2 separate regions of the Homo sapiens genome follow, and region 2 is linked to region 1. The links come from fine-mapping of genetic effects on gene expression. Tissue or cell type: unexposed skin. Region 1 holds a variant in brackets; the other region holds the start of a gene. All regions are shown on one strand. Distances are between the middles of the regions.

Region 1 (8,000 bases):
AAAAGGGGGCGGGGACCCCAGGACGCGGGGGAGGGGCTGGATACGCAGGTATTTTTATTAAACAGATTATTCCTGAAATAATAATACGCGCAAGATGGCTGAAGGTGGCTGTGATGAGAGTGTTGGGGTTGGGATTTTTTTCTTCCTGTTTTTTCTTTTTTGATCTGAGGATAAAGCTCTGAGGCGACAGCGGCTGCGGAGACCCTGCCCGAAGCGCCCTCCCCTCCCTTGAGAAGCCGCGGGCAGACAGACGGACCTCGGACCGAGCAACGGGTGCGGGCCCGCCCCGGACGCGTCGCCTGGGCAGCAGCCGGGGACCGCGGGCTCTCGCCTTTCTGCCGACTTCTTCCAATTCTCATCTTCTTTTATTTTTTGGACAGGACCGGGGTGGGTGGAGCAGAGGTGGAGAGAAATCGGGACTTGGCATTTTCTCCCTCTCTCTCTCCTAATTTGTTGGAGGCCGCCAGCCCTCCCCTTGGAAAAAAAAAAATCCCACCAAAAAAAAAAAAAAAAGAATCAGGAGCGAGAGGACGCCGCGGGGCCCTCAGCGAGCGCGCCCAGACCCCGGCCGCCGCCGCGGAGCCCAAGATGGCTGGGCGCTGAGGGTGGCGGCTCGGCCTGGCCCCGCCGCCGCAGGCTGGCTCCGACCGCAGCCCCGAGCCTTCCAGGCCCCAGCAGAGGCCGAGAAGAAAAGAAAGTGGGGAGGAGGGGGCCGGGGGGGCGAAGGGGGAGGGCCGGGGGAGGGGAGGGGAGGGCCGGGAGCCGAGCCTCCTGTTCATTAGCAGTTGAGAAAAATTCCTTTCTAGTTTGATCAATCCTTGTTTTCCTCGGCAGAGCCCGGGCGCCCGCCCAGCGCGGAGACGGGCGCGCGGGGTCTCTCCGCGGCGGGGGCGCCGGGCCTCGGGGGAGCGCAGAAGTAGCCGCCCGGGGGTCAGGCCGGAGCGCCGCCGGGGCTTCTCCCTCCCTCCCTCGCCGGTTGCCTTTTTTTCCACTTCTCTCCCTCCCCCTTCCGTTTCTATTTGTGAAGGGAGGAGGAAGGCAGAGGCGGGCTGGTGTCTCTGGCCGGGGACTGGAATTTCATCTGAATGACTGCCCCTGCGCGCACGCAGCGCCCCGGAGTCGGCCCGCCCGCGCCCCGCAGCCCGCGCCCGGCCAGCCAGCCGGGGGACGCCTGCACCGTGGCCCGGGGACCGCCGGCCTGCCCCTCCCGCCCCGTCCGGATCTAGCAGCCCTCGGCGCGGCCGCCCTCGCCTCCTGGCCCCGCAGACCCCGGGCTCCGGCCCCTGCGAGGGAGGTGCGGCGCCGACGAGCCAGGCAGGAGCCGCCGCTGCCGCCGCCGCCGGAAGAAGTGTGCTGCTCCCAAGCTCCGTCTGCCGCGGGGCGCGCCCCAATGTCAGCCGCGGGGACGAGCGCAGGCCGCGGGCCGCCACTGCCCTAGCCGCGCCGACGGGGAGGCGGCCTCTTATATGGAATTTGGACCCCGGCGCTCCCCTCCAAGGCTGGAGTCCCGGCCGCGGCCCTGGCGCAGTCCGCCGCCTCCCGCTAGGCGCTCGGGAGGAGGAGGAGACGCAGCCCGCTGCGCGCGCGGCGTGAGGACCGCGGCTCCCTCCTCCGGGGGGCGGGCACGCGGAAGGCGCTGCTGACTGAGCGACCGTCGGGGCCGGCTGGGGCCGGAGCTCGGGGCTCGGTGGGCCTACAGCGGCTCCGGACGGACCCCCGGGGCTGGGGAGTCGGGGAGGCCTGCCCCGGCCCCCTGCCCGCGGCCGCCATGGCGGAGAATTGGAAGAACTGCTTCGAGGAGGAGCTCATCTGCCCTATCTGCCTGCACGTTTTCGTGGAGCCAGTGCAGCTGCCGTGCAAACACAACTTCTGCCGGGGCTGCATCGGCGAGGCGTGGGCCAAGGACAGCGGCCTCGTACGCTGCCCAGAGTGCAACCAGGCCTACAACCAGAAGCCGGGCCTGGAGAAGAACCTGAAGCTCACCAACATCGTGGAGAAGTTCAATGCCCTGCACGTGGAGAAGCCGCCGGCGGCGCTGCACTGCGTGTTCTGCCGCCGCGGCCCCCCGCTGCCCGCGCAGAAGGTCTGCCTGCGCTGCGAGGCGCCCTGCTGCCAGTCCCACGTGCAGACGCACCTGCAGCAGCCCTCCACCGCCCGCGGGCACCTCCTGGTGGAGGCGGACGACGTGCGGGCCTGGAGCTGCCCGCAGCACAACGCCTACCGCCTCTACCACTGCGAGGCCGAGCAGGTGGCCGTGTGCCAGTACTGCTGCTACTACAGCGGCGCGCATCAGGGACACTCGGTGTGCGACGTGGAGATCCGAAGGAATGAAATCCGGGCAAGTACCCTACGCGCGCGCGCGCACACACACACACACAGACACACAGTCCCTTCCTCTCTCCCGCCCCGGGACCACCCATCCCGACAGGCTGACTCTTGTGACATCAGGCCAGTGGCCCCTGGCCAAACTCTTCTCTGAAAGTTTGGGGACAGGGTCCTGGGAAGAAGGGCCCCGGGTCGCTACTTGGTACATTCTCGCACCTGTGCGCACAGGGTCCGTCTTCTGAGTGCTTTATGGGATTGGGGTGTGGGACCGTCAGGGGTAGAGTCTGGGTGTTGCTTTTCTGTGGTGCGCAGCTCCCTCCCCCAGTCTTGTTGCTGTAGGCCCTACGGGAAGTCACCGAGGCAGTGACCCCGGTCCTGCCTCTCCAGCTGCTGTTTATGTAATGAGTGTCCCGGTGCCGCTGCTGTGGCTGACATGATCCATGATGCTGGCATACCAATGAGGAAGTAAACAAAAGCAGCCATGTTAGTTTTCAGCGCTATTGGAAACACACTGGGGGGGGAGTGGGGGGAGTTTCCAGAGGGAGAGCAGAACTCCGGCCGTCTCTCTGGACAGGGCCTGGGCAGCCAGCGAGGCCCCGACAGCGGCTCCGCTATTTGGATTCCTCCCGAGAGCCGGCTCTCCCTGTGTGAGAATCGCTGCCCTGTGTGCCTGTGTGTCGCACGGGCCGCATGAACAAGCCTTCAAGTATCTGTCTTCATCATCCTGGCCCTTTCGCCTAGCACAGCCCTCTCGCCGCCCTCCCACATTTGGGGAGGGGAAGTGGAAGACGGAAAAAGAATCCTGTGGGTTTAAGGTTGAGCCGCCTTGAAATCTGGTTTCAGGCAGCTGGCTCCCCTGGGCTGCCGGCTGGGTGATTACGGAACCGCGTCCCCTCCCATTGTATACACCCTGCGGCC[G/A]CGGCCAATGTCAAACCGCCTCCCCCCTCAGGCCTCTGGGCCTGGTTTTGGAGCTGGACTGAGGCAATACTTCCGTCCCCTTCAGTGGAGGGGGCTCCTCCTAGGTCCCTCCCCAGTCCTCTGGCTTTCAGGGTTGAGTCATACCAAAATGAAGGGGTTGGCCTGACACCGAGGAGTCCTCTCTGAAGCCCCACCTTGGGGCCTGGGGCCTGGGTGTGATATCTGGGGGCTAGGCTGCACTCTGGTGGGACTGGGAGTGTCTCTGGGTGGGGATCCCTGGAGGTTAGTGGAGGCCAGTGCGGAGGCTGGCTATGAGGAAGCTCTGTTCAGGGCATGATTGGAGATGGGGCTGTTTCCTGTGTGGGGGGACCAGTCAGAATGAGTCACTGTTTAGCAATTAAAAAACATACACATACAACCAACAAAAGGCAGGAGGGCCACCACAGGCTGGGGCGGGGGCAGCAAATACGATTTGCTGTATAATTAGTTTCCAATCGGATGGACTAGCCCTGGGTTTGTGTGCCAGGATAGGCCTCTGGTTTCTTAAAGGAAGTGTGTCCTCCACCCCCTGTGTCCTCCATCCCCGTTCAGGGCAGGCACAGCCCACACTTTCCCCAGTATTGGGAAGCTGCTGCTATTAATAAAGATGGAAGGGCTGGGGGAGGAGGCCGGGAAAAGTGCAGAGGCAGGAGAAAGGAGGGCTGTCCAGTTCTGTCCTGGGATTGGCAGTGGAAAATGAGAGGAGGGGAAAGGAGATGTGGCTGAAAGGAACAGGGGAGGGGCAGCAACCTGGGCGATGGGCGGATGCCTGCCCGCACCCACAGTGCTGCTGTAGCTGGTCTGAGTTCTAGGGATGTCTTTAATTGGGGTGGGGGAGAAAACGTCATTATACCTGACTTGGTGTAGGAGGATAGCTTTAGGTGTCTGTGTTTTTGAATGTCTTTGAGACTGTGTGCTTCGCCCTCCAATGCACCTGTCTCCTGTCTCTACAGTTCAGGGCACAGGCAGGGGTGGGTGGGTGGCATGTGCATGCAGAGTATTCCCTGGGGTGCCCCCCAGCAGGCCCCTCATTTCCAGACTCGTGGATTGGATGGAAGCAGGCACTGAACTTTGTCGGCAACTCCGCAGGGTGTGTGTGTGCGTGTGTGCGTGTGTGTGCGTGCGCGTGCATGCGCGTGCTTTCTTGTGCCTGGTGTGGGCAGGCTCAGAAGTAGTGGGTTGCATCAGGGCCAGATGTGCAATTCTGTGCGTTCAGCAGCTGTGCCCTGCAGTGGCAGCCTGAGCCTCATCCTTCTCCAGGTTCCCCCTCCCCAGGCCCCTGATTCTTTCTGGTGCCCCAGGCCACTGGGGTTGGAAACCCTTCAGTAGCCCAGTGTCACTCAAGTATGAGTTTGACTTATTGAATGTGGAGGAATAGGGGCCCTGCCTGCCCTCCCAGGAGGGAGAGGAGGGGGTGAACCATAGGAACCTAAATGGAAGAACCCTCTGCACTCTCTGTAGGCCAAACAGGGGGAGTGGGTGGAGCGCTCTTCCTTGGCCCCTTTTCTCTTCCCGGAGGGAGTCTGCCTTAAAGGGCCTTTGCTGGTGTTGTGGGCGAGGGCCACAGAATTCCCCAGGATACAGGGGCAGAAGCACAGAGACCTGGCACCTGCCTTAAAATCTAGGCTCTGCTTCTTGTGCGTCCTCTTCTGCCCTCCCAGGGGGATTGCTGACATGCCTGTCAACTGGCTAGAAATAGGAAACTCTGATTAACCCCTCCCTGGTGGCCTCACCCTCATATACTTACAGCATCCACAGGTGCACATGGGCCATAGCCTAGAGCAGGGACCCAGCAGGAGAGCAAACAGGTCCTCCATCCATCCTGGGGAACTACAAGGGGGACTCTCAGAATCAGGCCCAAGCAGGTTGTTGCCCTAATCTTCCCTTGGGAAGCCAGTGTGTCGGCCACATTGCCGAGGCCTGGATACTCACTGGATGATCCCGAGACCATTGTCTAGGATGTGCCTAGATCCTAAATGTGCTCTCCCATGAGGCTGTGGGGAAGCTAAGGGCCCAAGATTTGGACATCCAGGTGGGCTCAGGCCTGGCAGTCCTGAGTGGTCAGACCCCTCCTAGCCCCCAGGTTCAGGGGTTCATCTAAGCATTGAAGGACTGGTGGGAGCTGGGGGGCATCCTTATCTCATGACCCCCCATGACATGGAAAGAAGACCCAAGAGCAGGCCCGGTTGCATGTGTGAGGGGCCTGCAGGTATGTGGTGCGTATGTGTCTATGCAGGTGTATCTGCTTGAGTCTTGTGCAGTTACGGTTGTGTTTCTGCATCGTCCCTGGTGTCCCAGAGCAAGGCCAGACATGTTGCTAGGGCCCTGTTCCTTGCATTTTCAGAGGTTCAGAGTCAAGAAGAGGTTCTCTGGGGGAGGAGATCCCACTGCTTGGGCCAGTGTGGGGTTTGCCCCTGCTTGGAGTGAGGGTATCCTGTGCACATTGCCGGTGGCTGGAGGGGTCACCCTGAGACCCTGGAGGGAATCCTGGGTTTCCTCTCCATTTATCTGTCTCTGAGTACGCAGTGAGAGTGAGGGCTGGCTCTACTGGGGCTGGTGCTGAGGCTGGGGCTGCAGCCTGACTCCAGCAGTGCAAACCTCACTGCTCCCTCTCCCTACAGCAGACCATACTCCTGCAGGGGTGTGTGTGTTTGTGTGCACGCACGTGTGTTTGTGGTGTGACGGTCATGTGGCCCCTTCTTTGGCCACCCCCGAGTCTTCGTGGAAGGAGGCCCTGGCTTGGCTTTCTCCGTTGCCCGTGAAAGGGAGCCTCAGGCAGAGGCCCAGCTGCCCACCCCTACCCCAGGATCCTGCTGACATGGCCAGGCACCTGTCATGCACACACTATTATTACTCTGCCTTCTGCGGCCCTGGGTGGCTGCACATCTGTGTCTGTCTGCAGGTGTGTGTGTGTGTGTGTGTGCGTGCATGTGTAGCCAGCACGTCTGGGTCGTGTATCTTGGATGTGACTGATCTTTTTGCATCTCACATGGGTGTCTCTGAGAAGGCGCAGCCTGCCTGACTTCAGTCCCTAGTTGCGCAGCCGTGTCTGCCTGCCGGGCTTGCTGAGCGCCTGCGAGTTGAAGTTGAGTGTGCCTTCCTGACAGTTGGCAGCACTACTGTGCTGCTGTGTGAGTGCCCGCTCAGGTGATCCTTGCTTGGTGGCTGTGAGTTTGTCAGGGGTCCTGGGACTTCCCCCTGTGGTGGGGTTGTTGGGGAAAGGAGGGAAAGATGGGCTTCCCCTTGGGGTGAGCCTGTGGCGGGTATTGGAGGCAGGAGCTGAAAGGGTCCTGCGCTGTTGTGTTGGGTGCAGTCTGGCGAGGCGGAGCAAGCCCGGCTTGGGCCCCTGCCCCGGGCCGAGCAGGCTGGCCTGGCTGGCCTCCTCCCTGGCTCTGGGAAAGCCTTCCTTTCCCGGCTGGCCTGGCATTCAAAGCCAGACAAAGGGGGGCTTTCTCTCTCGCCTCTTTGTTCTGCTGCCCCAGAGCGCTGCTCTCTGCATGGCAAAAGCTAATTCCACTCTGCAGCTGGGAAGCCCTCTCTGGGGTCTGCCGGGCTCGCATCTGAGGTGCTGCCTCTCTCCTTGCCCTGGCGCCTGCCCTGGAGCCCCTTCCCTCTGCAGCTTGTGGTTTCCCCAGCCTGGGGTTCAGTTCACATGATAGCCCAAGGCAGTGGCTTGAGGCATGGAAAGGGGGTTTAGGGCAGGCAGAAGCTTTTCTGAGGAAAGGGGAGAGTGCTATGAGCGCAGAGACCCAGGGAGAGATGGGGACAGGGACCAGGGGGAGGAGTAGGGGAGGGTTAGGATGGGGTGGCTCTGAGAAGGGGGCTGGAGCCAGAACTGGAGCTGGCCGGGCAGGGACCTAAGCAGGAAGAGGCTGCCCAGCCCCCTCTTCTTGCCCCTCCCACCACCACAGGGGCTTCTGGAGCTAGCCATGGTCTTGTCTGAAAACCTAGGGACTGCCTCTGTCCCAGTCCCTGGGGCCCTGTTTCCTCCTGACCTTGTTTCTCTTCAAGGTTGACTTGAGGGTTTTATTATTATTATTTATTAACTTTTATACAGCCCAGAGTCCCCAAGCCTCACCCGTCTGCCCAGTCTAGTCTGGCATCAAAAATGGCAGCTGGCCTGGCCAGTCAGTCTCCAGAGGGACATGAGGCTTTCCTGGGGCAGGAATGTAGGGGCTCAGGGTTCGCTGCTCCAGGCCGGGAGGGGAGTCAGAGGAAGCAGCGGCAAAGCTGAGGAGTGGGGGCCCAGGTGGTGGAGGGTGGGAATGGCGGCTCCTGATTCTTCATGCTTTTGTCCTCATAGGCCCCGGGCAGATCACCAAAGGCCTGAGGCCCGACAGGCAGGGCTGGGGGTGTGAAGGTCCTCCCTGGGCCCCACCTAGTCCCAGTCTCCCTGGTGGCCTGGGGCCTCCAGAGCTTCTAGCCCAGGCCACGTTCCACTCTGCTCTGCTCCTGCATGCTCCAGTGTACGCAGTCCAGGCCATGCACTGCTGTGGGGGGATGGGGCGGTGGCATGTGTAAGGTGCCTCCAGCCCACCTGCCTGCGCAGAGAGTACTTGCTCTGAACTGAGCTGGGAAATCTGGTCGGATCTCAGCTATGGGTTTTTCCCAGGTGGGAAGTGGGGCCTTGGCTCTTAGCCATTCCCTGGGGAGGCAGGTGGGGGTTGGGATGGAAAGGAGGCTGCTGGTGGTGGGGGGTCTGGGCCTTGCTTCCTCTG
Region 2 (8,133 bases), 140 kb before region 1:
AAATGTGGCAGATTTTCAGCAAATACTAATAGGAAAATGACTTAAGTTTCTCCTACTTCACCTTTTGGCAGAAATACTGGCATAATAAAGGACATGTTTTCCCAGAGGGGGAAAAAAAAGACAAGTCAATTCTTTAAATCTTGAAACTAAAAATGCATCACTGCTGTAATGCATTTCGAAACATACTACCAGGAAAGAGAAAGAAAAAAATTAAGACGCATTAGTGTAAGTGATATTAAAGAAAATGGCCGGAGATGGAACTCCTGCCTAGCAATTCAAGAAGCAAAGGAGCTGGTGGGATAGACAGGTTGTTCCTTCTGCATTGCTGATGAAAACAGGAAATTGAATTTCTATATATTTTTCCTTTTTACAACTAAGAAAAAGGCAGAAGAAGCACAAAGAGCCTGGCTAAAGACAGAAATCGTAGTGCTCTCTGAAAATCAACATCAAGAACAAAAAGTCCTACTCAATTATCTGCAGTAACTAACTAGAGAAAACTCCCCATCTTTTCTTTATTTAGGAATATCTTTGTTACTTTGATAGAGATATTCAGTCATTCATCCAATCACCCATCAATCCAATGAAAAAACATTTATTGAGCACACAGAGGTGCCAGACCCTAGGTATACTGTGTGTGTGTGGAGAGAAGTGGGTGAAGTGAGACTAAAGGAATATCATCTTTCTTAAATTTTTTTTCCCAACACCACTAAACCTGTGGGAGAATATCATCTTTTTCCACAAGGATTTAATAGTCTAGTGAGGGAGACAAAAAGATCCTCTCAAAAATGAAGTATCTGGGCTGGGTGTGGTGGCTCATGCTTGTAATCCCAGCACTTTGGGAGGCCAAGGCGGGTGGATCATTTGAGGTCAGGAGTTCAGGACAAGTCTGGCCAATATGGTGAAACCCCATCTCTACTAAAAATACAAAAATTAGGCCGGGCGCGGTGGCTGACGCCTGTAATACCAGCACTTTGGGAGGCCGAGGTGGGCGGATCACGAGGTCAGGAGATCGAGACCATCCTGGCTAACACGGTGAAACCCCATCTCTACTAAAAATACAAAAAATTAGCCGGGCGAGGTGACGGGCGCCTGTAGTCCCAGCTACTCGGGAGGCTGAGGCAGGAGAATGGCGTGAACCCGGGAGGCGGAGCTTGCAGTGAGCCGAGATCGCGCCACTGCACTCCAGCCTGGGCGACAGTGAGACTCCGTCTCAAAAACAAACAAACAAACAAACAAACAAACAAACAAACAAAAATTAGCCAGGCGTGGTGGTGCACATCTGTAATCCCAGCTACTTGGGAGTCTAGGCTGGAGAATCTCTTGAACCTGGAGGCGGAGGCTGCAGTGAGCTGAGATCGCACAATTGCACTCCAGCCTGGGTGACAAAGCGAGATCCTGTTCCCTCCACCCCCCCACACCAAAAAAAGAGGCGTCTCTGCCAGGCACGGTGGCTCAGGCCTATAATCCCAGCACTTTGGGAGGCCAAGGTAGGAGAATCGCAACAGCCCAGGAGTTTGAGACCAGCCTGGACAACATGGTGAAACCCTTCCTACAAAAAATACAAAAATTAGCCAGGGGTGGTGGCGCGTGCCTGCAGCCCCAGCTACTCGGGAGGCTTAAGCGGGAGGATCACTTGAGCCCAGGAGGTTGAGGCTGCAGTGAGCTGTGATCGCGCCACTGCATTTCAGACTCAGCAACAGAGCGAGACCCTGTCTCCAAAAAAAAAAAAGAAAAAAAAAATGAGCTGTCTCATTGAGCTCAATCCTGCCCCTTTCTAAGGGGGAATAATAAAAACAAAATACCCATGGAGAGAAGGAAAATTTAATGAAAACAACAACAAAAATATATTGGAAAAAGCAAGCAACTTGGAACTGGATCTTAGTCTGATGACTGGCTCCTCAATTCCTAAACTGGATGGTTTGAAATCTGTTATTTAACATCCCTGCATACACTGGGGATAGTAATTCCTATCTACCTAACAGAGCTGAAGCTTAAACGAGAACATTGTAATATGCCTAAGGTCCCAAGAGCTGAATCAACAAAGGGAATCTGACAGAGTCAGCTTACAACAGAGGGAACTGGTAGTTTTGCCTCAATGGAGGGACCTACAAGGGACACAGACAGGGATCAATCTCTGTGGGACCAAAGCTTTGAATCGAAGGCAGAAATGCAGTCGTTTTACAATTTTCTCCTTTCCCCCCAAAATAAGAGCAGTATTTAGATTCTTTCTATTGGTCAATATTGATGCTTCTGCATGGTGGTGCTGGCAAAAGGGATGACGGATAAAGTACTGGATTTAGGGCACCTCTGCTATGTGACCTTGGGCTCACGTTACGTCTTCGCGCTTCAGTTTTCTCATCGGTAACACGAAGATCAAAGTTCCTTTTAAACTATGCGTCCAGTTTTTGTGAGGATCCAACTCGAATGTATGTGAAAACGCCCTGGAAGCGCTAGAGCGCCAGGCAAATATTAAGTTTGGTAATTTTTTCCCCGTAAGAACTAGGCGTTCCAAAGAGGAGGACAACCTCTCTGCTTCCTTTGTCACTCTCCTTTCTTCTCGACCTTTACCAACTTTGTAATTTATAATCACAGTAATAGCTGACATCCTACAGCGGTTTCTGGCACCAGATTCTCGGGCCCCACCCAGATCCACACCACCAAGCCGCAGCGCCGGCTGAGACCGAAGGAAAACTTAGCCGTTCTCCACCCGCGGGCGGGCACTCGCCTCTAGGCCCCACCACCCAGAGTCCCGGAAGCCAATCCCCACAGCCCTGGAGCACTGCCCCGCCCCTTCAAGAGGGAAAACAATATGGCGGCAAGGAAGAATGGCAGGGGCGTGAGCCAATCACCGCAGAGGCCTAGCCTCATCCGGCAAGGCTAAGAGGCGGTATCATTGGCTAAGATGGACAGCCAGAGCAACCAATAGAGCGATCGGAAATGGGGGAGAGGGCGGGCGACGGGAATCTCACACAGCGGTTAAGGCCCCTAGAGCCAAGGGCCCAAGGACTGGCTTGGACTATAACTCTTTCCTTTATCCACTCCAGAGTTCTCCATCCCACTTTTGCTGGCTGGCCGCCTTGCCTGCGGACTATGTGATAAGGGGAGGAAGGAGGCGGCGGTGGCTGAACGCGCCTGACAGGCCGGGCCAGTGACAAAGAGCCGGCGGCTCAGGCTGAACCCCGGGAAGCGATCCTTTCGAGGAGGAGAGCCCAAGTCCCCTTATAGATAGGAAAGACGCAACTCACGTTGTCGATCACGACAGGCTGGTTGGCGATCACATCGTAGGACTCCATGGCAGAGGAATCTCTCCTTCTGGGGAAGGAACTGCCCAGCCGGGTCCGCCGCTAGCGCCACTGACACGCATGCGCAGTCTAGCCGCCGGTTCAGGGCGGCGAGGGAGCGGCCCGACCTCGCCTCTGAAGAACTACAATCCCCAGCAAGCTTTGCGCCTGGGTTAGCGATCTAGCTTGCTTTGTTGCCCGCCTAGTTTAAGATTGGGAGTCGCATTTCCAATGCGCAGTACCCTGGGATTTGTGGTCTCCCTAGATTAAACAGCCAGAGACACAGGTTGATGGTCATGTTGCATGCCTGGATCTGTAGTCCCTTTGAAGGAGTTCGCAGTGCATGCTGAGGTATGTAGTCTTCTCGAGTACTTGTCTGTAGTTCGGTTTGGATTGGTCGTAATTCATGGATGTTTGGATTTTGCAGATCAGCCCTGCCACTCCCCCCGACGTTCCCTTAGACAATATAAGGTTCTCATGTTTTTATTTGGGTCTGTAAGACTTTAATAAACATCTCCTAGCACCTCACACTCTAACAAAAAGGAAATGTTAACACACGTACGCGAGAGGACATATTCCTACAACAAAGGAAAACAATTTAAATTGCATAAAATTAGCTTTAAGTTTAAAAACCTGTACATTGTCGTTGCCTTTTGCATTTTCTTTTTTTCTGCATAACAGGCTAACATTGATCCGAAGATTGGCAATTGGAACTACTGGTATAGGTAATCTTTTGGTCATTAAAACATCATCTAAGGGTTTCAGAAACTGCTCGAGTATCTCTTTAATTTTCATAACGAGCTAGAATTGACACTGATGGTTGAGAAAATGGAGGTGAAGAGAGGTTATGTGTCACTGCTTTCAAATGAGCCCAGTGCATTTTTTTCTCTGGATTATGTTCTCCCCCAGCCCCCTTGAAATTTCAGGGACCTTTTTGTCAATAGCCCTAGAAAACATTAGATTTATTATCATCTATTAATACTAACGCCCCATGGATGAATGAATCAATCCATTGTCAGATTTATGTTTAAATCCTAGTTAGCAGCGCGTCAGCAAAACAGTAACAAATCCTTTGTTGGCGCACTTCTCGCTGCTTTCGTGGGACCTTAGCACCTCAGAGGGTGCTCAGCATCTCTAAACTTGGGTTCCTCCTAACACTAGGGGGAGACCAAGAGCCTTGGGACACTCCCAACACAGGGAGGGGAGGCGGGGCCTATTGTCAAGTCACACCTTCCCTGCCTGTGACTGGCACAGACATTAGCCAATGGGTGCTTGGATAGGGTGCGCCGGCGCCCCGCCCCCCTTAGCGCCCCGCCGCCCCGAGGCACCCTCTGGCAGACTCGGCGGCGGCGACAGCCTGGGCGGACAGTGCGCCGTGCGCAGGCGCGGAGCTAGACCTCGCTGCAGCCCCCATCGCCTCGGGGAGTCTCACCCACCGAGTCCGCCCGCTGGCCCGTCAGTGCTCTCCCCGTCGTTTGCCCTCTCCAGTTCCCCCAGTGCCTGCCCTACGCACCCCGATGGCGGAGCTGCGGCCTAGCGGCGCCCCCGGCCCCACCGCGCCCCCGGCCCCTGGCCCGACTGCCCCCCCGGCCTTCGCTTCGCTCTTTCCCCCGGGACTGCACGCCATCTACGGAGAGTGCCGCCGCCTTTACCCTGACCAGCCGAACCCGCTCCAGGTTACCGCTATCGTCAAGTACTGGTATGCTCTGGGCCGCGGGGAGACGGACAGGCGCGGGCTGGAAAGGGTTAAAGCGCCGAGGGCGAAGTAATTTGTGGGAGGTGGGAGGAGGGGTAGAGAATGGTTAAAGCACTCAGAAGGAGGGCTTCTTGCTGCGAGGGAAGGAGTTAAGGCTCAAGTTGGGAATGGGGACAAAGGGGTTAACGGAGCCCGTGGGTACTGAGGGGTTAACCGGGATTAGGAGAATAGAGTGAGGACTGGGGGTGTGTGTAGGAGCAGAGGGGGGAACGGCAGGAGCGAGGGAACTGTAAACGTGGTGAAAAGAGGGGGCGCCTGTAGGGGGTCATTAGTGGGCGAGGGGAAGCCAAGCGGGGGCGGCCGAAGTGGGATGGGAGAGGCGAGGCGGGGCCTGGGGAGCATTTGAGAGGGCTTTGGAGGAGCGAAGCCGAAGAAGCTCAGAGGGCACGAGACTGCATAGAATGGGGGGTTCGGGGGGCCCAGGGCTCTCCTGTGGTGGGTAGGAGGGCCAAAGATGAGGGCCTGGTGCTTGTGGAGAGAGGAGGAGGTCTCCTTTTGATACCTTCCCGATTAGCTCAGACGTCGTATCAGGGCAAAGCTTTTGCTTTTGAAGTTTGACGGAGCAGCTCTTCCTGATAAACTTTTTGCTTACTCTGCACTGTTCTCTTTCTCCGTGCAGAGCTTCCTCCTAGCTCTGCAGTTGCTTCGCTTTAGGGCATTAGGTAGAGAGAACCATGGTTTGGCTTAGGATTGAAGGGGCCGACAGCTTCCCACCTCCAGTTGGAAATAAATGGTGGAGACTCTGGGACCCCAGCAGGGAGGAATTGTGCAGTGGGACATTAAGAGGAGCTTCTCGGCCATGGCCTGCAGTTTCTCCGGGGAGCTGAGAGTAACCCTCAAGTAGCTTTAGGGTAGGAATGGTCTTTTCTAATTTCCCATTCCTGTTTGCAGCCTGTTTCTTCCTTCAGCATTTGGGCAGAACAGATGTTCTGGGGACTCTGGAAAAGAACCTGTCCTCAAAGTCTTGCTGGACCAAAAACTGAGATATTGGTTGAAACTGTCCAGGACCACATTCATGCAGGCATTGTGTAAGATGATCTTCAATGAGTCTTGAAAGACTGTTCTGCAGCTGCTTGGGGGTGTAGCCAAAGGGTAGACCTGAAGGGGCAAGTGGACATCTTTGCTGGTTACCTCTCCTTTTAGGACTGAGTCTTCCTCCTGGTGAAAACCTGTTGCTTCCCCTGGACATCGGTGTCAGTAGGCTGTGCAGGGCTGAGGCCAGCTGCCCGCATCAATGGGAGGATGCCAAGAGGCCAACAGCGTGGAGAGCCTGGGGACCAGCCACCTGCTGTCTAGGGAGGATTGTAGGGAACAGCCTCCTCTGTCAGAGTAGACGGGAGGAGGTGGAACTGGTGTCGCAGTCCTCTCTCACTGGCGAACTGTTCTCTGGTTGAGAGGAGTTGTTGAAGAGCGCTTCTGAGTGGAAAGCAGCTCTTGCTAGCTTAATGACCCATTCTCATTGTGCCTTTATATTTAACTATGTGTTGTGATGAACTTGTTGTCATGTGTCAGGAGAAAAGTGGGCCTGGGCTGGGCACAGTGGCTCATGCATGTATTCCCACCACTTTGGGAGGCCTTGAGGATCCCTTGAGGCCAGGAGTTCGAGACCAGTGTGGGGAGCGTAGCCAGACCCTAACTCTGTTATTTGAAAAAAAAAAAAAAAAAAAAAAAAAAAGAAGTGGGCCTGGCTCTGCCACGCTGTTTGTTCAGGCCTCATTTGAGTGTGAGGAGAAATCCCTACACAGATTCAGGCAACTATTTTTATGTCACCCAAGTAGCCATAAAGGATAGAATTGTATGTAAAAGGTATGAAAGCATGTGCAAAGGACTAAGGGCAATTTTTTTTTCCTTCCTGCTGCAAGCTTGTTAACAGCCATATCTTCAGAGATGGGCCAACATGTGATAATGAAGAAAAGGGATTATACAGCACTTTGTGAAAGCCCTTCCTAGATGCAGAAAAGTATAAAGAGAAACAGCACAGTGACTGGTACTTTCTTTTTTTTTTGAGACAGAGTTTTGCTCTGTCACCCAGGCTGGAGTGCAGTGGCACGATCTTGGCTTACTGCAACCTCTGTCTCCCGGTTTCAAGCGATTCTCGTGCCTCAGCCTCCCAAGTAGCTGATATTACAGGCACACGCCACCTTGCCCAGCTAATTTTTGTATTTTTAGTAGAGGCAGAGTTTCACCATGTTGGCCAGGCTGGTCTCGAACTCCTGACCTCAAGTGATCAACCCACCTCGGCCTCCCAAAGTGCTAGGATTACAGGCGTGAGCCAGTGCGACCAGCCATCAGTGACTGGTACTTTCTAAGATGTGGAGGGGTTTGCAAAAATAAGATCCTGAAATTCATTTATATTCCTCACATTTGGGATCCCACGAGGTTTCTAGCAGGATGACTGACCCAGGCTGTCTGGGTCTGTCTGTGGCCCAGGGTAGCTTGGGATTCATTTTGCAATAGCAGTGTGGCTCTGTGACTGGTGATCCCTGAGTAGTGGGGACATTCTAACTGAAAGCTGAGACTTTGGTGAGCAAGGATCAAAGCAGAGAGGCAGAACCTGTACTCATGGCCCACTTCAGTCCTGCAACTGCCCTGCAGAGAGAAGTTGGGTGTTCAAGGAATTAAGTTGAGGGATGCCCTGGGACCTTGGATAACATCATTTGCTAAGTGTAAAATGCGATTTTTTTCCACATACTCATCTGGCCTCTGAGTAGTAAGTAAACAGAATACTCTGTGCTTGGGGACAGGGTTAATTTTATCTGACTCTTGGTAGTTCCTTGCAGTTGGAGTTTGAAGGTTAAGCTTCTCTCCTTGATGTGACACCTTGTGGGAGACTTGGTGAGAAAGAGGGCTGCAGGGATGCTGCAGATGGAGCAGAGAATGGTAAACACAGTTTTGCAGCTTGGTGCAGGATGGACCTAGGCTGTAGCGGGGCAGGTTTGGAAATTTGCAGCAGGAAACTGGAGCAGGTATGGGGCCTGTAGTGGCTCTCATCTGCTCTGGAGTTCTGTAGCTCTAATGGGGTCTTTCCAGGGATCTCTACTCTTTTCTTTCTTCCCTTGCCCCACAAACTTTTCTAAATCCAACCTGTTGTAGAAT

Which allele goes with the higher level. Positions count from the first base shown, and alleles are read on the strand shown. Sizes are in standard deviations (SD) of each study's normalised expression.
For the expression in unexposed skin of the gene that starts at base 4,618 in region 2, A is the low allele of the variant in region 1 and G is the other (small effect, 0.16 SD a copy in GTEx).

The links. PIP is the estimated chance that this variant, and not a neighbour inherited with it, causes the effect.
Region 2: it holds the start of SUFU, and the variant in region 1 is fine-mapped to the expression of SUFU in unexposed skin (GTEx, PIP 0.96).

The regions. Positions count from the first base shown.
Region 1 is chr10:102,642,850-102,650,849 of GRCh38, forward strand. TRIM8 (tripartite motif containing 8) reads left to right here and starts at 1,630. Exons shown (of 6, transcript NM_030912.3): 1 at 1,630-2,338. The coding sequence starts at 1,769. TRIM8-DT (TRIM8 divergent transcript) reads right to left here and starts at 340. Exons shown (of 1, transcript NR_186489.1): 1 at 1-340. It overlaps LOC105378460 (a long non-coding RNA gene), which reads right to left. Exons shown (of 3, transcript XR_007062272.1): 3 at 7,307-8,000. RefSeq lists enhancers at 268-1,022, 1,023-1,778, 1,880-2,009, 2,790-2,889, 5,713-6,680 and 4 more and silencers at 290-349, 620-719, 800-1,779, 3,065-3,281. The variant G/A (reference allele first, on the strand shown) is at 3,244.
Region 2 is chr10:102,499,355-102,507,487 of GRCh38, forward strand. It overlaps SUFU (SUFU negative regulator of hedgehog signaling), which reads left to right and starts at 4,618. Exons shown (of 12, transcript NM_016169.4): 1 at 4,618-4,980. The coding sequence starts at 4,799. It overlaps ACTR1A (actin related protein 1A), which reads right to left and starts at 3,358. Exons shown (of 11, transcript NM_005736.4): 1 at 3,246-3,358. The coding sequence starts at 3,293. RefSeq lists enhancers at 1,342-1,842, 3,237-3,336, 5,805-6,305 and silencers at 3,687-3,756, 4,434-4,903, 5,218-5,512.